3 linked regions of the Homo sapiens genome follow. The protein of the gene in region 2 interacts with the protein of the main gene of each other region in a pairwise test. Each region holds a gene or a part of one and is shown on either strand. Other genes may lie near its edges.

Evidence for each region. Proteins that work in one complex are often made in the same cells at the same time.
Region 1: the proteins of SNX4 (region 2) and SNX7 interact in binary tests that used the Homo sapiens proteins (3 or more experiments, as listed by UniProt).
Region 3: the proteins of SNX4 (region 2) and SNX30 interact in binary tests that used the Homo sapiens proteins (3 or more experiments, as listed by UniProt).

The regions. Positions count from the first base shown.
Region 1 is NC_000001.11:98,657,506-98,664,720, reverse strand, and holds the start of SNX7 (sorting nexin-7), read right to left. Parts: upstream 3,001-7,215; 5' UTR 2,990-3,000; coding exon 2,810-2,989; exon of another isoform or gene 2,339-2,809; intron 2,025-2,338; exon of another isoform or gene 1,905-2,024; intron 1,786-1,904; exon of another isoform or gene 1,763-1,785; intron 1-1,762. UniProt on the Homo sapiens protein: Involved in the regulation of endocytosis and in several stages of intracellular trafficking. Together with SNX4, involved in autophagosome assembly by regulating trafficking and recycling of phospholipid scramblase ATG9A.
Region 2 is NC_000003.12:125,454,185-125,461,207, forward strand, and holds part of SNX4 (sorting nexin-4), read right to left. Parts: intron 6,677-7,023; coding exon 6,587-6,676; intron 3,182-6,586; coding exon 3,082-3,181; intron 1-3,081. UniProt on the Homo sapiens protein: Involved in the regulation of endocytosis and in several stages of intracellular trafficking. Plays a role in recycling endocytosed transferrin receptor and prevent its degradation.
Region 3 is NC_000009.12:112,746,718-112,753,759, reverse strand, and holds the start of SNX30 (sorting nexin-30), read right to left. Parts: upstream 3,001-7,042; 5' UTR 2,759-3,000; coding exon 2,603-2,758; intron 1-2,602. UniProt on the Homo sapiens protein: Involved in the regulation of endocytosis and in several stages of intracellular trafficking. Together with SNX4, involved in autophagosome assembly.

The DNA.
Region 1 (7,215 bases), on a different chromosome or scaffold from region 2:
CATCCCTCTTGATTTATATTGCCATTTAGAGTTTGTCACATCTTCCCACCTGGAGTATAAGATTGTGATAGCAAGAACTAAATCTTGTATTTCTTTTTTTTAAAGCATACTTAACACAAAATGTATATTTGCCATGTACTTGTAATACGTTGTGGAAAAAAAATAATAAGAAGTTGTTTTGTTTTTCTTTTGAGACAGAGTCTCACTCCGTCACTCAGGTGGGAATGCAGTGGCGTGATCTCTCAGCCCACTGCAACCTCTGCATCCCGGGTTCAAGAGATTCTCCTGCCTCAGCTTCCCGGTTAGCTAGGATTAAAGGCTCCCACCACCACACCCGGCTAATTTTTATATTTTTAGTAAAGATGGGGTTTCACTATGTTGGCCAGGCTGGTTGTGAACTCCTGACTTCAAGTGATCCGCTAGCCTCAGCCTCCCAAAGTGCTGGGGAAATTCATACTCTTTAAAAAGCTTCTGGAAGAGTATACCAGACACATATTCACAAATAATCTAAGAGAATAAGGGGACTATAAAGGTGAATGTAAATTAAATATGTAGTTTGCCAATCTCAAATTACTAAAAGGGAAGGACAGTTTGCTTCATAAGTAATTGTGAGATTCCATCCTAGGATAGGCTGAACAGCAGTGGTGTTTGTTTTATAGAGGAGCAGGCAAGGAAGGTAGTGGAAAGGGAAGGCCACGTGGAGCAGGCTTTCTTAAATTTGCTTAACTACAGATAACGGTTGAGAAATTCAACTTACTGAAATGGATGAAAGTGGCTAATTTTAAACTTTTCCAACTACTCTTGTTGGATTTTCACTAATATTATATCTTTGCCTTAATCTATGTGGGCAGTTTCTACAGAAGTTGTTCTTAACTTTTTCTAAGCATCCAACACGCGCAGTTAACACTAACAAGCAGGGTGGACCCAGGTGTACGGGCTTTTAGAGTTTGGAAGGTCCCCTTTTAAAAGAATACAAAATTAGGTGGAAAAACACATTATTCAGAATGAGAAAAGAAATCTCAATAAATGATTGGAGCCATGGAGATCTAGATTCCTTAGTCTGAGAGAGCTTTAGGCAATTCACCAGAAATGCTTATTTAGAAATGCTTCTGGTCGGGACCTGTCATTTCCTTCCCACCTAGAACATCTGCGACTCCAGCAACCCCCAACACGCCCAGAGGTCTAAGCAAACGAATAGCGCTGAAGCTTCAATTTCATTAGCTTCACCTTGGATCTGCCTCTGACAAGAGGACCTCATTTAAACATTGATTCTTAAGAGTCAGCTAGAACACCTAGAATCTGGGGAAAGAGAAACCACTTGACAAGTTTAAAACAATCCGAGTCACTGTGGCTCAAGCCTGTAATCCCAAACCCTTTGGGTGCTGGAGGTGGTAGAATCCCTTGAGGCCAGATGGGTCCAGCCCCGACAAAAAAAAAAAAAAAAAAAAAAAAAAAAAAAAAAAAAAACCAGAAAGAAACCCTGATGATTCTGATACACCATTGCTATTTCCAACATCCCATCCCAAAGTTTCACAATGCATAACCATAGACTAATATTCCTTATCCAAACAGCAATGTAAAGAAGGAAAGAAAGTAAATAACCAACTGGCCAACTGTCGTTGATCTGAACATGAAGTATGTGTGGAATATAAAAAGGCAGAGTTTACAACTAAACATAAAATAATTCCATTGTTTTACTACTTAACAGAAAAGTCAAGAGCACAAAACTGTGATAGTCTGTTTAAATATTCGGAATACAAACCTGGGCCTATCATTCCATTTAAACCGAAGTAGAAATAAGTTTTATATACTCCTCTTTGGAGTCAGAGTATGCATGGTCACTTCCTAACTTTGGTTTGCTCTCCCAGAGTAAATGCGGTGGTTAAGTAGGTCGTTTGCTTTACCTAATATCTCCAGGTAACGTTAAAATGAACAGGCTTCTTAGTAATGAATACAGCGTTGTGATCTGAACTCAGGTCTTCTCTCAGCAGCAACTTGAGAAACTGGAGTGACATTCAACCTCCCTGCAAGAAAGGTATTTTTCTTTTCTAAAACCCTTTAAGAAATTACAAACACCAGTCTACACGTACCAAAAGTCTACCACTAGCCCCCACAAGTCAATTTCCCTCCAACAGTAAAATAAGCAAATAAGAGCCTTTGGTCCTAAATTTCCCGGGGGCAAGGAAAAACGAAAGCACTGGCTGTGGGTTGGGTGGCAGTAGCTGACCATCTGAAAAATCCTTAGCTCCTCAGCGGAGGAGCTTCCTGTTAGAAACAACCGTTTTCTCCTGTTCAGGGAGATTTCCTAGAACCTATTCCCACAAGACCCGAGACTCACCCAAGTCTCAAATCCACAAGCAACAACACTAAATTAAGAATAATTTCTCTAAACTTGGCTGCTCTCCCAGAGTTCAGGGCTGGCCTCGCCCGAAAAGCAGCTGGCGGGAGCGGTTTTGAGCCACCAGCCTCCCAGGTTCGGGAGCTGCCGCGAGGAAGATGTCTGTGTCAGAGAAGCAGAAAGGGAAAACAAATCACAACTTTGCAGACTCCACTAAGCCACAGCCCCGCCGAACGGAAGGTCAAAGTGCGGAGGAGGGAGCGGCTGCGGTTTGAGGCCCCGAGGCGACGCGGCCCCGGGTGCGGCCAGAGCTGGCAGGCGGGGTCCAGCAGCCCGGGGGACCTCACTCGTCCCCAGCTCAGAGCCACCGCCCCGGGAGGGCAAGCGCGCCAGAGGCAGCCGTCGGCGCAATGCTGGCAACGCCCGGAGTTGCCTTGGAAGTTTCCCGGGACTCGCCGCCGCCGCCCTCACCTTGCTGAACACCTCCAGGTCGTCCTCGTCCTCGTCCAGATCCAGCACCTCCGCCTGCAGCAGGGCGGAAGAGCCACTGCTGCCCGGAAAGGGGGCGCCGCCCCCCGGGCTCTCCCCGTTGGCGCCCCCGGCCGGGAGGCCCGAGGAGGGCGCCTGCGATGCCCGGCGCTCGCCCTCCATCCCGAGAGTGCGCGCCCAGCCGGCCGCCACCGCCGCCGCCAGCCCGGCTCCCCCGAGCGTGCCCATTGGCTCCCACGTCTCCTGCACCTCCCCGGCCGGCCCCGCTCCAGCCCCTCGCCCGCTGCGCAGACGCGGAACTGCCGGGACCAGCGCTGGCCCGGGCCGGGCGCATCCCCACCTGGCCTGGGGCGGGCTGGAGGGGCGGAACTGGGACTCTCGGACTCCGGCTACGTTGGAGAAAGGGTTGGCTGTACCCTGGAGAAGAGGAGAGACTCAAAGGTAGGAGGTGGGCGTCCTCGCATTGACCCAGTCGGGGGCCACCGAGTGACGGTTTCCGCAGTGGCGGGGTCTGGGAAGAAGCCACGAAGCGAACCGTCCACTTCGCGGGATCCACAGCGAGGCTGGAAGGCACCCGACCCAGCCTTGCCAAGAGAAAAAAAAAAAACAGCAATAACAATACTGTATTTCCTGTATTCAGTGGTTGCCTTTCTTCTTGGTTGTGATTTTCGAGCTAATGTAAAAATAAAGACATGAAAACTTCCCGTTTTGTTAATTGATTTTTGACCCAGTGACTGGCCTGTGCGGTCATTTCACTGTCGAGCCAGGAAAGCTGAGCTTTACAAACTATTTTCAGCCACTTTCAAATGCATCTTTACTCCTGGACGTCTTCCTGAAGTTAATGAGCAGAATGTTACCAAGACCCAAGGACAACTAGCAAGTCTGGAAAATTGCCACCGAGAAATAATCTTCAGTCCTTGCATTGCCAAGGCAAAGCTTTAATTATTTAACTGCTTATTATTCAAAAACAAAACTAAGTTCCAAAACTAATGGAAAATTTTGCCCACGTTGATATATTCTTTAATTTATCTTCAGGTTTTATTTACTTCCGTCAGCCCCACCTCTTTTCTGTAGGCCCATTTAAAAATTTTTAAATACATTAAGCTCTATGTAAGAATTCCTTATTTGGGGAAATAGAGAATATCTTTATTTCTGATTAGAGGCAAGGCCTTAATAATATATTATCTCCTAATCATTCAAATGTATTCCCATTGATTTCAGACGTGCACCCACCCTTCAGTCAGGTTGGTCACTGCCCCATGAGTATCCACATTTGTTTCTGTGCTTGATGATTTCTGTACTTTAAATGCCATCTCCTGCCCATCCTTCAGAAATTAAATATAGTCCCATCTCTTTCAGAAAGACTTTCTAAATGACAGTCTGTTCTCAATTTAGCATTTAATTTTATTCCATCTTGCAGATTGTATTTGTTTCATGTACAAGTTTTCCATTCCTTAGTAAATGATAACATTTTCAGGTTGAGGATCCTGATATGTATTAACCACAGTATCAGATGTACTCTCAAAATGCTCTCTGCTAATTTCTGTAAATAATATAAGTTATTAAAAGACTTTATTTTTTCCTTGATAAGCTTATTCTGACTAGTAAGGAAGATTCAAGGTTTTCTAATTGCAATCTGAACCAGGAAATTCTTAATAATGCTGTAACTCACAGAATTGCTAGAAACCATAGAGAATGGGCTCAGAAAATGGGCAGAATAAAGCAAGGCTGCACAGCTTGGATTATAGCCAAAAGCAAGGCCACAGAACCAGTGGTACAGACATTGCTGCTACCATTGCCTGATACTGGTTGCCACACCATCTTCACCAGTGTCAATATTGTCATTAACACTGATGTTACTGGACTCCAGTTGCTTTCCCTGGCAGCAGTACCACAGCTACCTCTGAGAACTTCCCTGCTATTACTGCCACAAAAATGTCTCCATCACCCTGTTTCTCTGTGTTGATTTTTCTAGTATTAAAACCCTGGAGAGTATGTGTGCTTGGCCAATCTGGCCAAGTTTCATGGAAATTCCTAAGGCAGAGAATTTTCTAAACATAGAAAGGCCATATTGATGCTTGTCAACCAAAAACAAGAAAAATAGGAAGAGGGGTAGGATGAGGAAGAAGAGTAGGGAAAACGTGACTATAATTTGCCCCTTTGGCTGTCCAATTAATATTACCTTTCTTCACATACTCCCCCTACCTCCATGCTTTGAGCACCTGAGCATGCAGTTCACAGCCCCTCAAAGGGAGATAATCCCAAACCTACTCATTATTAGTACAACTCCAAAGCAGTATGTCTATTCCTCCTGTAGTCTCAGCTTCCTATTAAGTGGGACTATCACTGGGTTTTTTTGTTTGTTTGTTTGTTTGTTTTTGAGACAGAGTCTCACTCCCTCGCCGAGGCTAGAGTGCAGTGGCGTGATCTCTGCTCACTGCAACCTCCGCCTCCCGGGTTCAAGCGATTCTCCTGCCTCAGCCTCCTGAGTAGGTGGGACTACAGGCGTGCGCCACCACGCCCAGCTAATTTTTTGTATTTTTAGTAGAGACAGGGTTTCACCATGTTGGCCAGAATGGTCTCGATCTCTTGACTGCATGATCCACCCGCCTCGGCCTCCCAAAGTGCTGGGATTACAGGCTTAAGCCACCGTGCCCAGCCTATCACTAGGTTTTTTAATGGAAGAATTCTTACTTGGGTACTAAAGCCTTTAAACCAGCATAGTCCAAAACTTGGAGTGCAAGTATAATATTAAGAGCAGCCCTACCCACTCCTGTCCTGTTTAAGAGAAATAATATCATACATTAATTTATGGTTTCATGAATATACATCTTGTCAAAAAGCTTTCTCTCCCTTATACTTTCCAGATGGGATCTCTTCAGACCATAACTGGATCTTTAATATTCAATTCCACCATCTATGAAGTCTGCTGTTTCTAGTAATGGGTTTTGTGATGAGACAAGTTACCCCATGGGCATTGCCCAAAGGCTTTACTTCTTTTGCTAGAAAGTGATTTAACTAGTTAGAAAAAAATATAATGTGCAAAATCTACTGAGGAATAGACCAGTCAATAAGTTCATGGACGAGCGTGTTGAGGGAAATCTGATGAGCAGAAAAAGCAAAGCCAATTTGACTTTTCCACTAAAGACAAATCATGGCATCCTCCAGTGTGGCAGGGTAAGGGTCCTGCATAGTTGCTGTGGCAAGCTGAGTGCTGAGCAATGGAAGCAGCCAATTATCCTTTAGTGAGAGGAAATCCTTATTTTTGAGCCAATGCATAGCATAAATCCCTGCCACCATGGCCACATGGTATGTGAAGCCATAGAACAAGCACTGGAGTTTCTAGAAAAGCAGTAAGATTAACATCCACAGGAGAATAAGCATTATTTTCAAACTTATTTCTGATGACATAAATTCATCAAATGAAAAGGCTTTTTTGGAGAGCATTGTTGTGGGCTACATACAAATATGCTTTTATTCTGGGGCCATTCCAAGAAAGTCACCTACATACATTTTCTCAAACCTTCTTGACCCCGAGATCCTACCTTGTTTCTTCTAAGTCTCATCAAGTCAAACCTCTAGCCTTTGTCCTGGAAAGAGCATAGAAGCCTCATTCTAACTGCCCTTTGAAGCATAGTGGGCACTGTTGTATACCAAGAGGAGGATTTCCCTTGTCCACTGCCCTTTTGCACTGCAATAACTACTAACTGATTCCCGCAAATGATAAAGATCCATCTGTAAACCAACTTTGGAGTTTTTACCCCTTAGTTAACTGTTCAGATAAAACTCCCTATGAGATCATAGGGGTAGACCTGCTGAGAGTAAAAGCCAAATGCTCATGCAATGTATGCTTATAGGACCACTTTCAAATATTACATTTCCACATGAGCATGGCTTGCTGAAGTAAGGCTGGATCAATTTTAGGATTTTTTTCATTATAGCACCCATTTCATGAGGAGCTGCTTGGATCACATAGTCACCTGATGTCACATGCTTATGTATCTAGTTGATATTGTTTGGCTATTTGTCCCCTCCTAAAGTTATGTTGAAGTGTGATCCCAAATGTTGGAGGTGGGGCCTAATGGGAGATGTTTGGGTCATGGGGGAGGATCTCTCATGAATGGCTTGGTGCCCTCCCTGTGGTAGTGAGTGAGTTCTTGCTCTATTAGTTCACACAAGAAATGATTGTTTAAAAAAAAAGAGCATAGCACCTATCTCTCTCTCTCTCACTCTGACTCTTTTTCTGAATCTCTCTCTCTCGCTCACTCCCTCTCTTGTCCTATGACATGCCTGTCTGTGCCCCCTTTGCCTTCTGCCATGAGTGTAAGCTTCCTGAGGCCTCAGCAGAAGCCAAGAAAATGCTGATGCCATGCTTGTACAGGCTTCAG
Region 2 (7,023 bases):
ATCTAGAGATAATTTAAAGCAGGGGGTCCCCAACCCCAGAGCCACGGAGTGATACCAGTCCATGGCCTGTTTGGAACCAGGCTGCATAGCAGGAGGCAAGCGACCACCTGAGCTCTGCCTCCTGTCAGATCAGCAGCAGAGGCATTAGATTCTCTTAGGAGCACGAACCCTATTGTGAACTGCGCATGTGAGGGATCCAGGTTGTGTGTTCCTTGTGAAAATCTAATGCCTGAGATGATCTGAAATGAAACAGTTTCATCCCGAAATCATCCTCAGCACCCCCTGCCCTGGTCCATGGAAAAACTGTCTTCCACAAAACAGGTCCCTAGTGCCAAAAAGGTTGGCGACTGCTGATTTAAAGTATACAAAAGGATATGCACAGGTTACATGCAAATACTACACCATTTTATAGAAGGGACTTAAGCATCTGAGGATTTTGGTATCCCAGGGATCCTTAAACCAATCTCACTGAAGATACTGAGGGATGACTGCACTACTGAACTATATACTTAAAAATGGACAAGATGGTACATTTTATGTTATATATATTTCACTACACACACAAAGGAAATAGAAAACATTTGCCATATTTCCCCTAAGTCAGACAAAACCACCATAAGCTTCACAACCAGGGATCTCTTATATGAGTTTTTATTTATTTTTACAGAGTCATAGCCAAGAATCCTAATAGAATTTCTAACACTGAAATAATATGGAGTAGTCAAAAAGAAGACACTTCTAACTGAATTTCTTTTTTTTTTTGAAATGGGGTCTTGCTCTGTTGCCCAGGCTAGAATGTAATGGCACAATCATGGCTCACTGCAGCCTCAACCTCCTGGGCTCAAGTGATCCTCCCACCTCTGCCTCCCAAGTGGCTGGGACCACAGGTGCATGCCACCACACCCAGCTAATTTTTAAATTTTTGGTAAAGACAGGGTCTAGCTATATTAATCCACACTGGTCTCAAATTCCTGGGCTCAAGCAATTCTGGGTTTACGCCTCTGCTGCTAAAGGTGTCGGGATTGCCATTGTAAGCTACCATACCCGGCTTGAATTTCATAATCAAATGGAAAACTTCCACGTGAAATATTAGACGTTATTTCTTACTCTGTATGAATGATATTTTAAAAATTACTTTATGTTATAAAAAAAGTCGATAAATTCACTAGGCAACTATGGAAATAAACCAAACTAAAGAAGCATATTTAAAATCTGCATAACTCAACGCTCAAACTTGGGCATCTATTAATAAAACAGGATACCTAAATCCAAGCATGGGAAGGCAACCCCAAGCTTCACTGCTTTAACATTTCCTCACTCTCTGGAGTTTACTGAAGAAAACACTTTTCCCTTGACATGTAGGATAGAGAACCAAGCTCCCTGAAAATGGCCTGGGAACTTCTCCCACTGAGTTTTAAAAATAAACCAAGGGCCTAGTTTATACATGTGTCCTGGTCACAAGTCTTTCCCCACATATATCTGTGACTTTTCACAGATGTAGCCAGTGGGTAATCTCTGTGAAAAGCACTTTTAAAACTATAGTGCTTGGCCAGGCGCGCTGGCTCATGCCTATAATCCCAGCACTTTGGGTGGCCGAGGCGGGCGGATCACGAGGTCAGGAGATTCAGACCATCTTGGCTAACATGGTGAAACCCCGTCTGTACTAAAAGTGCAAAAAAAAAATTGGTCGGGCGTGGTGGCAGGCGCCTGTAGTCCCAGCTATTCAGGAGGCTGAGGCAGGAGAATGGTGTGAACCCAGGAGGTGGAGCTTGCAGTGAGCCACACTCTAACCTGGGCAACAGAGCGAAACTCGGTCTAAAAACAAACAAACAAACAAACAAAAACTACAGTGCTTATTAACTAAGTAGAGACATTGCTGCTGGTTTACTACTTTCAGAATGTGTGTTGCTCACCATGATGGCTGATTTATTGCAATGAAATAACTGGAGTAGAAAGCTGATTATAAAAATGATCCAAGACTAATGCAATCAGGTACAGAATTTTCCTCACAAGTACTCACTGTAAGCATTAAAGAATAAAGTACATCAAAAGCTCCCTGTTAGGCGAGATGCACTGGTTCTAAGTGGGTAAGGCTTTTCAAAGTCAACTAAAATTTCTGCAAAGTACCTTGCAAAGTTAAACCTGATAAAGGTCACTGCATGTTTTTTCACTTGGACTTAGAAACCAGATGATAGACTAGGCATGGTGGCTTACCCCTGTAATCCTAGCACTTTGGGAGGCGGAGGTGGGAGGATCACTTGAGTCCAGGAGTTTGAGACCACCCTGGTCAACATGATGAGACTATAAACAAAATTAGCCAGGCATGGGGGCACATGCCTGTGGTCCCAACTACTCAAGAGGCTGAGGCAGGAAGACCACTTGATCCCAGGAGTTTGAGGCTTCCATGAGCCCTGATCATACCACTGCACTCCAGCCTGGGAAACAGAACCAGACCTTGTCTCAAAAAATAAAAATTAATAAAAACAATTTTTTTGAGATGGAGTCTTGCTCTGTCACCCAGGCTGGAGTGCAGTGGCGTGACCTCGGGTCACTGCAACCTCCGATTCCCTGGTTCAAGCAATTCTTCTGCCTCACCTTCCCGAGTAGCTGGGACTACAGGCGTGAGGCACCACACCTGGCTAATTTTTGTATTTCTAGTAGAGATCGGGTTTCACCATGTTGGCCAGGCTAATCTCGAACTCCTGACCTCAGGTGATCCACTGGCCTTGGCCTCCCAAAGTGCTGGGATTACAGGTGTGAGCCACCGTGCCCAGCCCAATAATTTTTTTTTTTTTTAAAACGAAACCGGATGATACTGATTACACCAGAGAAATGTTGGCAAAATTTCTTATAATTCTATACAGTACATGGTTTTAATGGCTTACATCATTTTGTATCAAGATAATAATAAAAGAATTATAAAGTTACTCACAAATTATTCCCCTGTAAAAGGTTCAGCCGTCCTGAGTATTGTAACTGGAACTGATTCTACAGGAGTGAGTTACTCACTCAGAGTGAGTGCTTGTGAGGAACATTCCGTGTTGCTACAGTATCATCAGAGGCCAAAAGGAAAATACTCACCCCAGTTACCAGTTCCTCACACTGCTGCTTCTTGGATGCTAAGTCCTGAGCAGCCATCTCCAAGTCATACTGCATAAGTTCATGTTTCCTGCACACAGCCCTACAGATGAAAAAATGTGCTGCCATTTAACTTTTCCTTTAACATGTCAAACATTTTTTTCAAGGGTAGAGGAGAACCATTCACAATGTCTCGCTAGGGCAGAATGTGTGTGCCCAGAATTTTCAAGTTTAAAATGTAGTAGCCCAACATTAAAAATGGAATCTAATGGAATCTAGCAGAACCTAACCATAAAAACTTCATATATTCTTTTTTTTTTTTTTTTTTTTTTGAGACAGAGTTTTGCTCTTGTTGCCCAGGCTGGAGTGCAATGGCGCGATCTCGGCTCACTGCAACCTCCGCCTCCCGGGTTCAAATGATTCTCCTGCCTCAGCTTCCCTAGTAGATGGGATTACAGGCATGCGCCACCACACCCAGCTAATTTTGTATTTTTAGTAGAGATGGGAATTCTCCATATTGGCCAGGCTGGTCTCAAACTGCTGACCTGAGGTGACCCACCCACTTCGGCCTCCCAAAGTACTGGGATTACAGGCATGAGCCACCTGTACCCGGCCAAAAACGTCATATATTCTTAACACAAAAAAAGTTGTTTTCCATATACTTGGAACATTTCTTTCAATAAACATGCCATTATCACATACATAAAACATTTTTTAATGTATGTGAGAACTACATACATAATGTATACATATGTATACATAATTACATACATAATGAACTACATACATAATTAGTTCTTACATAATGTAAGAACTAATGCTGTAATCTCACATAGCAACTGAGTATTCTTAGAAAAGATAATACCTCAAAGTTTTCTTCTTTGTGATTTAGAAATGTCTATTAGGTATTTTTTTTTTTTTTTTTTTGGAGACAAGGTCTCACTCTGTCACCCAGGCTGGAGGGCAATGGTGCAATCTCGGCTAAATGCAACCTCTGCCTCCTGGGCTCAGGCAATCCTCCCACCTCAGCCTCCTAAGTAGCTGGGACTAAGGCATGTGCCACCATATCCAACTAATTTGTGCTTTGTAGAGATGGGGTCTCGCCCATGTTGCCCAGGCTGGTCTCAAACTCATGGGCTCAAGCAATCCATCCACCTCAGTTTCCCAAAGTGCTAGGATTATATGCATGAGCCATGTCGCCTGGCCTAGAAATGTTTATTAGTTTTTATGATCATAAAAGTAATCCATGTTCACTGTAAAAAGAAAAGATTCGGATGGGCGCGGTGGCTCATGCCTGTAATCCCAGCACTTTGGGAGGCCGAGGCGGGTGGATCACGAGGTCAGGAGATTGAGACCATCCTGGCTAACACGGTGAAACCCCGTCTCTACTAAAAATACAAAAAAAGCCGGGAGAGGTGGCAGGCGCCTGTACTCCCAGCTACGCGGGAGGCTGAAGCAGGAGAATGGCGTGAATCCCGGGGGGCGGAGCCTGCAGTGAGCCGAGATCACGCCACTGCACTCCAGCCTGGGTGAAAGAGCGAGACTCCGTCTCAAAAAAAAAAAAAAAAAAAAAAAAAAAAAAAGAAAAGAAAAGATTCTAATACAGCAATGCACAAAGTAAAAAAAAGAGGCTGGGCATGGTGGCTCATGCCAGTAATCCCAGCACTTTGGGAGGTCGAGGTGGGCAGATCACCTGAGGTCAGGAGTTCAAGACCAGCCTGACCAACATGGTAAAACCCCATCTCTACTAAAAATACAAAAATTAGCCGGGCATGGTGGTGCATGCCTGTAATCCCAGCTGCTTGGGAGGCTGAGGCAGGAGAATCACTTGTACCCAGGAGGCAGAGGTGGCAGTGAGCAGAGATTGTGCCACTGTACTCCAGTCTGGGCAACAGAGTGAAACTCCAACTCAAAAAAATAAAAAAAACAAAATACAACAAGAAAGTTCAAGAACACTCTCTTTCCTCCAATCCCACTATCCAGATATAATCGGTGTTACCAGATAGTATATAATCTTTCAGAATTTAGCTAGGCATTGACAAATACCATATCCATGCACCCCAAATGGTTCCTACATCTTTTCTCAAATGGCTATACACCCTGGCCATCTTTCCATGTCAACATACATTAATCCCTTTTATAATTTTTAAGAGCTGCAGAGAATTCCACTGTACTCAGCAACTTTCTTTTTTGAGACAGAATCTCACTCTGTCACCCAGGCTGGAGTGTAATGGTGCGATCTCGGCTCACTGCAACCTCCACCTCCCCTGTTCAAGCAGTTATTCTGCCTCAGCCTCTCCAGCAGCTGGGATTACAGGCACCCACCACTATGCCTGGCTAACTTTTTTGTAATTTTAGTAGAGACGGGGTTTCACCATGTTGGCTAGGCTGGTCTCGAACTCCTGGCCTCAGGTGATCCATCCGCCTTGGGCTCCCAAAGTGCTGGGATTCAGGCAGGAGCCACCTCACCTAGCCAACTTTCTTTTGCTTGGTGACTTGAAAATACATTGGTGAGACTTCCTACTACTCAAAGCCCTAGAAGGAAAACGAGCTAACAATGTGCAGATGATTTCACACCAATCACCACAGAGGTAAGGGAATAGTGCTCTTGTTTTCCTAACAGAATTCTTATACTGCTTTTAAAAGCGACAGGACAGTGTTGGCTCATGCCTGTAATCCCAGCACTTTGAGAGGCCGAGGCGGGTGGATTACCCGAGGTCAGGAGTTTGAGACCAGCCTGGCCAACAACGGTGAAACCCTGTCTCTACTAAAAATACAAAAATTAGCTGGGTGTGTTGGCGGGCGCCTGTAATCCCAGCTACTCAGGAGGCTGAGGCAGGAGAATAGTTTGAACCCGGGACGTGGAGGTTGCAGTGAGCCGAGATCACGCCACTGCACTCCAGCCTGGGTGACACAGCCAAACTCTAGTCTGTCTCAAAAAAAAAAAAAAAAAAAAGTGACAGGACAACTGACCAAAAGCCACCTATTCTGGGAAAATAATTCCTTTTTCTAAACTGATCAGAAAAAAATATATTAACTTTTTCCTAGTCACGTAGGACTATCTAAAAGAGAATTCCCTTTGGCTCTGTAAAAGATAACATAAGAACAGATAAGAAAGTCCTTGTTACATAAGGACGTTGTACAAGCTACTGATAAGACACACAGAATAAAAATAGCAATATACAACATAGTAACAGATACTGTTACACACACTGAATCTGTATTTTGCTTCCAATCTTCAAACTGGAAAAAGTGGAAACAACAACATACAGGCACACTTGATGCCTGAGGCTGGCAGGTTTTATCAAAATGATGCTTCGAGGGCAGGCCTCATCTTACATGTTTATGCCTAGCACTCTGCAACACAGAGAAATACAATGAGACCTCATTCATTATCTGAGGGAATGCATTCATTTAAAAAACACTCTACTATCTGTACTTTACAGTGGCATATGAGGAGAGTGGTGAACAACCCTGTGGCTGCACCTGGAACTTTTATTAAACTTACCGCAATGCTTCTGCATAAAAAAGATACTCTTTTAACTGATCTGCATAATGTTCTTCATCTTCCAAAATATCATCAATAGAAGATGCATACCTGTTTTAAAAAAAAAAACACACATTGCATAGAGTTACTTTCATTGGAATACAAAGTATTAGGGTTCTAGAGAAGTGCAATTAGGCTGGGCGCAGTGGCTCACACCTGTAATCCCAGCACTTTGGGAGGCCAAGAAGGGCAGATCACTTGAGGTCAGGAGTTCGAGACCAGCCTGGCCAACGTGGTGAAACCCTGTCTCTACTAAAAATACAAAAATTAGCCGGAAGTGGGGGCGGGTGCCTGTAATCCCAGCTACTTGGGAGGCTGAGGCAGGAGAATCTCTTGAACCCGGGAGGAGGAGGTTGCAGTGAGCCAAGATCATACCAGTGCACTCCAGCCTGGGTGAC
Region 3 (7,042 bases), on a different chromosome or scaffold from region 2:
AAATCAGGCCCTTGAGAATGGTGTCATTTAGATGCTCCCCACAGCTGTTAGGAGATTCATTAAATATTCAATAATTAGGCCAGGCACAGTGGCTCATGTTTGTAATCCCAGCACTTTGGGAGGCCGAGGAGGGCAGATCACTTGAAGCCAGGAGTTCGAGACTAGCCTGGCCAACATGGCGAAACCTCGTCTCTACTAAAAATACACAAATTACCTGGTCAAGGTAGCACACGCCTGTAATCACAGCTATACGGGAGCTGAGACACGAGAATCACTTTGACCAGGGAGGTGGAGGTTGCAGTGAGTCAGGATCAGGCCACTGCGCTCCAGCCTGGGTGACAGAGTAAGTCTCTGCTCAAAAAAATACATATATATTCAATAATTAATAATGCCTTCAAGACTCTCCCTCCTACACAGAACAGACCCTTTAAAGGAAGCCATCGGTAATTAGACTTGAGACTGACTTCTTCACCACTAACCAGATCTTGGTGGTACGGGGAATTTGTCTTCCAAGTGCTTATTAGTAAAATGCTCATACTTCTGAGTCAGGTATCATCCATGAGTGAATCGTTAGGTAAATATTTTAAATGGCTATCTGTAGTAGCCAGTCTCCAAGATGGCCCAATGATCCCCACCTCTTGGTATACACACCCTGATATTCACACCCTCTCCCCACATTGTACCAGTGTCAATCTGTGTGACCAACAGAATACAGCAGAGGCATGTCATTTCCAAGATAAGTTATACAAGACTGGCTAGAGTCTTGAGCTCTCTTGGATCACTTGCTCTGGGGGGAAAAACCAGTTGCCACATCAAACAGCCCTATGGAGAGTAACTAAGACCTGCCAACAGCCATGTGAGTGAGCTTAGAAGTGGATCCTCCCCTAATCCAGCCTTCAGATGACTGCAGCCCAAGCCAACAACTTGACTGCAACCTCAAGAAAGGCCTAATTCAGAACCACTCAGATTGTCCCACAGACACTATTTCCAGGTGATAAGTTTTGGGGTAATTTGCTACACAGCAATAGATAATTAATTCAGTGTCCCACACAGAACTGAGAAGGAAATGAGGTTTAACCCCCAGTTCCTACACTATTTTAAGACCAATTTTTGTCGATAAGAAAGCAAATTTATTCAGTTATTCAACATTTTTTGGAGACAGGGTCTCACTCTCTTGCCCAGGCTGGAGTACAGCGGTGCAATCATAGCTCACTGCAGCCTTGAACTCCCAGGCTCAAGCAATCCTCCCGCCTCAGCCTCCTGAGTAGCCTGGATTACAGGTGCATGCCACCATGCTGTGTGCGTATGTGGAAACGGGGTCTCGATATGTTGCCCAGGCTGGTCTCAAACTTTTGGTTCAGAGCAATCATCCCACTTCAGCCTCCCAAAGTGCTGGTATTACAGGTGTGAGCCACTGCACCTGGCCTCCATTAGCTTTTTTAATTTTCCTGTTCCTAATGCTTTGGAACTTCACTCCCTGCTTTCACAAACCCTCTGCAGAAGGTACATCAAGTCGCACTCTCTAGTGATTTTAAGTGCTCAGTGACCTTCTGACTGCAAGGAGGGCAGGTTATATTTTCTCATACTCCTTTTTCACTGTACCACATGGTGTCCCCTCTAACGGGAGAAGAAAGTTAGGTCCCCTGCTCCCATTAATATTGGGACAAGGGGGAATTCATTTAGTATTTTACTAGGGAGAGAAAATCTTGATCACAAGACCTGAGAACAATTCTAATTTCTGCAGTTAGTGACTAAGTGACGGCAGGAGCGGGGATACAATCACTGCTCAAGTCTCCTTCACAGCTGAAATGGCCATGGGGGTAGGGAGGAGGTCGTCCCTTACCCCTGCCTGGACTCTGCTGTCTCTCCAAGCAGCAGGAGGGTTGTGCTGCTCTAAGAAAATCTGGAGCCTCCCTCCGTACAAAGAAGGTCAAAGGGCGAGCTTTCTTTCCATCAACCACAAAACCAGCCTCTGCCAAACCTAAACAGAGTGGTAGGCCGTCGGAGGTGAATGGAGCCCCAGACAGAAAACCACAACGAGGCTCTCCTCCCGCCGCCGGCTGGGGTCTGAGTCAGGTGACTCCTCAGGACAAACAGCAAACCTAAACAAAGATCACTCCCCACATGACTGACTAGGGGGAAGAAGACTCTCGCTGTAAGCCCAGGGCTGCCCGGTCCCAGCACGGAAAGCCAGGAACTCCTGCTTTCTGTGCAGTCTCGGAAACTGGAGGAGCTACAAGTTATGCAGCAGCTCAGCCTGCAGGGATGCACCTGGAGGAACTCGGAACCCCATCCGAGGACACAGGCGCCCTGCCCTGAACACACGCCTCCCGCTCCAACACGCAGGCTGGACCCCTCCCCACCAGCTGTCACCGGTGCTTGCGACCAGTCACAGGCAGCGAAGCCTGTCCCTCTGCGGCTGCGACCCCGCGGAGGCGGCAGAGGAGACGCTTCGCCGAGGGCTCCGGGGCCAGGACACGCCCGTCCCCCGGGAAGGGGCGGCAGGGTGGGCGCGGCCCCAGGCCCACGAAGGCTCCGGATCCATCATCCCCCCCACGGGGAGCGAAATAAGCCTCCCACTCCCCGGCCCCAGGCGCCCCACCTTGTCACCGAAGCTGCGGGCCATCAGCAGGTCCGGGCTGGGCGTGCTGTCACCACCCACGGCCTCCTCGCTGCTGGAGCCGGCCAGCGGGTGCGGCATGTCGCGCAGGGAGTGGGGCCCCGTGGACGGCAGGGCCTTGGGGGGCCCGCCCGCCATGGCGCGCACCGCTCGGGACGCGCCGCCGCCGCTTCCTCCTGCTGCCCGCCGCGGCGAGCTCCCCGAGCACCCCGGGCCGAGCCCCGCTCGGCCGCCGCTTAACCCGAGGCCTTGCACCGGCCGTGCTGGGGGCCGCCGCCACCCGCCGGCTGGTCTCTGCCGGCGCTCAGACGCTCCGCTCCGCGCCGCGCGCCCCCGCTCCGCGCCCGAGCCCGCCGCGGGTCCGCTGGCAGCACGGCCGCGGCGCCCAGCCCACACAGCCACACCGCCCACCCGCTCCGGCCCCGCCCCCGAGGCGCCGCGGCCGCCCGGGAGGGGGCGGGGAGGGCGGGGAAGGGGCACGTGGGGAAGGAAGGACGGAGGGAGGGAGGGAGGAGGCGCGGCCCCGCCCCCGCCCGGCAGGAAGTGCGCCCTGGGCCTCTGCGGCTGTCCTCCCAGTGTCCAACGTTGCCTCGCGGAGGCCGCCGTGCGGAGCAAATGTCTAACGGAAATCAGAGGTGGAAAAGAGGTTGGAGGAGCCTGTTCCGTTCCACCCGCGTTTACTGATGCGCCCACCAGCAGCCACGCTTGGGGCTGGGGGCTTTGAGGACACGCACGTGAGTCAGGGTCTTCTGGCCTCTAAGGCACGCGCAGGAAGAACCCTAGATAGACGGAATTACGACCCATATCGGAAGAATAGCATAAAGGGCGACAAGGCTCAAATGAGCTAGAGGACATCGGGTGGGGAACCTGGAAGGGACTTCAAAGAGGCGGTGTGGGGAGTCTTCAGGCTCACTCTGAGGTCCCCATTGTGGCTTGCTTCTGCAGCTGAGCTGGATTTGTGTAAAGTCAAACCTCAGAACAGCGAGCATGAGTAGAGAGTCTCAAATGATATGCGACTCTTCAACTCACACTTTGGCCGAAGAGACTTTTGAAAGAACCATGAGGTTCAAGTTATTCTTCATGCATTTGTGCTTCCTTTCCAGGCCTTGGGCTGAGCTGATTCTCAGCTTTATTTGCTGGCGTGGTGCAAATAGTCAAGGTGTTACTTCCAGCCCTTTGGGGTGTAGGTTCACCTCCTTTTTCCACCTTACCTGTCCCTAGATCTTCTGTTTCCAAGGCCAAGTCTTTAAAGGGTTTTCAGTCCCTCTAGCAAAGTAATGGGTAGGGAGGCTCATCGTGAGGGACCACATTTTCCCTACCCATTCCAAACTCAAAGGTTTGCCTAGCCTTACCTGCTAAAAGGTGATGACAGATGTTGACTCTGGGATTCACTAAGGCCTCTACCACAGTTTTCTCTAGAAACAAATAGAAGAGAATGCAGAGGGTTGAAATCTACCCAAAATATCAGTCAGAGACTCTGAGCTTCAAAGACCTTCCCCTATTTCCCCCAATGTAATTTATATAGGGTTGGACCCTTAGTCCTCAAGCTATCATCTTTATCTCCTCCACATAAGCCTGCCTTGGCTGGGAAAAGTAGCATTCAAAGGGCACTGGGAACAATTTTAAATGCTGCATCTAAGGAATGCCAAGTTCTGGTCCTCTTGGAGTTGGATTAAAATTGTTAACACTTTCACATTCAAGGGCTGCTTACAACTACTACAGACCCTATTATCTGTTCTTCTGAATTAGCATGAAAATGAATAGCACAATATAACTAGAAATGAGTATTTCTAGAAATGAGTATATACATCTATAGATGTATAACATCGGTTTTTCTTATTGAATGGTGCTACTTATTTTAACAACCAGGCTGCCTTAAATATAATGGACATCCGTATGGATTAAGACTCTATACAAGCTTTCTCTTTAGTACACCAGGGGAAAGTGAAAAAAGAACCACATTTGAATTCGGCTTTGTCACTACAAGTGGGTGACCATGAGCAAGTTACTAACCTCAGTGAACCTGTTCCTAACCTAAAAAGGAGGAGAATGGAGAGCAGGTAATAATACCTTATGAGATGGTTGTGAGAGTTATATAGCATTCTTTATGTCATAGTCCTAGCAAAGTGCTGGCATAAAATAGGTGCTCCCTAAATGTTAATTACCTACCTTCCTTTCCCTTTCTGTCAGATTTTCTCTACTATTCTTATGAAATAATAAAGAGTTTTTGTAATTAAATATGCTTTACTATTCTGAGTAGGGTCTGGTTGAATATACATATATATACACACACATACACACCAGGTAGGGTGCCTCACACCTGTAATCCCAGCACTTTGGGAGGCCAAGGTGGGAGGATCACTTGAGCCCATAAGTTCAAGACCAGCTTGGGCAACATAGTGAGAGCCCCATCTCTATAAAAAATGTAAAAATTAGTCCGGCATGGTGGCACATACCTGTAGTCCCAGCTACCCAAGAGGCTGAGGTGGAAGGATTGCTTGAGCCTGGGAGGTTGAGGGTGCAATGAGCTGAGATTGCACCACTGTACTTCAGCCTGGGCAACAGAAGGAGACCTTGTCTCAAAATAAAAAAAAATATATATATATATACATATATATGTGTGTGTACATATATATGTGTGTATATGTGTGTGTGTGTGTGTGTGTGTGTATTGACCTCCAAAGTCCTCCATTTGCTCAGTTTAGATTGGAGTACCACTTTTCTATGCTCCCACCAAAAAAAGGACCCAGACCCAGAGTTCCTAAAAGGCCATATGAAATAGTTGATTACAGTTTATTTATTTATTTTCCAGTTTCCTGGTTGGTCGATAGCAGCTGGCCACAATATCCAGTGGGTAGTCATCAAAACTAAAGAAAGTGAATTTGTATGGAAAGTATTTTGGTAGAAAGTTTCCACGATGAAATTTAGCCCAGCCCTGCCCATTCATATTCACCATTTCCTGTGGTATTTCAGTGTTCCTTGTGGTGGGAAATTGTCACTGAAATAATATAAGTGTCCCAGAGCATGTGACTTTGCTTCTACTAAAAGGTTTTGTTTTTTTTTTTTTTTTTTCTTGGAGACAGGGCCTTGCTCTGTCGCCCAGGCTGGAGTGCAGTGGCGCAATCTCAGCTCACTGCAACCTCCGCCTCCCAGGTTCAAGCGATTCTCCTGCCTCAGCCTCCACAGTAGCTGGGATTACAGGTGTGTGCCACCATGCCCGGCTAATTTTTGTATTTTTAGTAGAGACAGGGTTTCACCATGTTGTCCAGGCTGGTCTCAAACTCATGACCTCAAGTGATCTGCCTGCCTTGGCCTCCCAAAGTGCTGGGATTACAGGCTACTAAAAGTTTTAAAAGCAGCATGGTGGTAAGGAGGAAACGTGTAACGTTTCTCCATCAGAGCAGAAGGCTGTGGTGTTTGTTGGAACTTATGGAGGGAAGCTTGGATTTCTAGGGTTGAGCTCTGAGGAAGATAGTAGATGTATGTGTGTGCATGAGGGGCGAGGGAGGTCCCCAATGCCACCAGAACCCAAGAACACAGCATGGAGCCCTCCCAATTCATAAGGAATCTTAGACACTTAGGCTGGCACCTTTCAGGAGACAGGGCTTTGGGCCCCAGAATTTAGTACGCTTACCAAACAAATCCTATCGACCTCACTAGCAAGCGTATTGGGGCTGCCTGTGAGCACCCAGACCTCAGAAACAAAGCAGTCTCAATGCATCATTCGCTCATTCTTTCCCCTGGTACAGCATGTGCTTAGGCCTTCTTCATGTTTGTGTTAGCCGCTTATCCTCTGGTGGTTTTTAGTACAATCATAGCTTTATTCTATATGGCATCCCAAGCCCTGCCTCAGAATAACACCACCACTTCTGAAGTGGACGGCTGGTGAGGACAAAGGACGTTTTCAGAGAGCATTCAGGATGACATGTCGCAAGCCACAGAGGGCTGTATCAAACAAGGGGGGCAAGTGAGAAGGCACAATCCCCAACAGAGACAAAATTGTGTGGACAATTTAATTCAGCCAATGATGTCCCAGGAAAGAAACAAGGTCCACTTGAGTCCAGGATCTGAACAGTTTTGCTAACAAGAAATTGGAACTTGCTACTGAACCAGCAGAGGGGCTTGTGGGTGAATGATAGCATCATTTTATCTCTCCATATAGAAGAGCTCCTGGCTTGCAAAGCATGGAGACCCTGATGCAGTGAGTTATACAGTACAGTCATGGAGTTAGTGTTCCAAATCTCAAACTTTGGGTGCCTAACAATCAATTGTGAGCTTGTAAAAATGCAAACTTCTGGGCCCCACATCAAGAGATTCTGCTTCTGGAGTGAGGCCTGGAATAATTTTTAATTTAAATTAATTTTTAATTTAAAAAGTGTTAATCTCCTAGGTGATGCTTACGCTGATGCTGGTCTATAGACT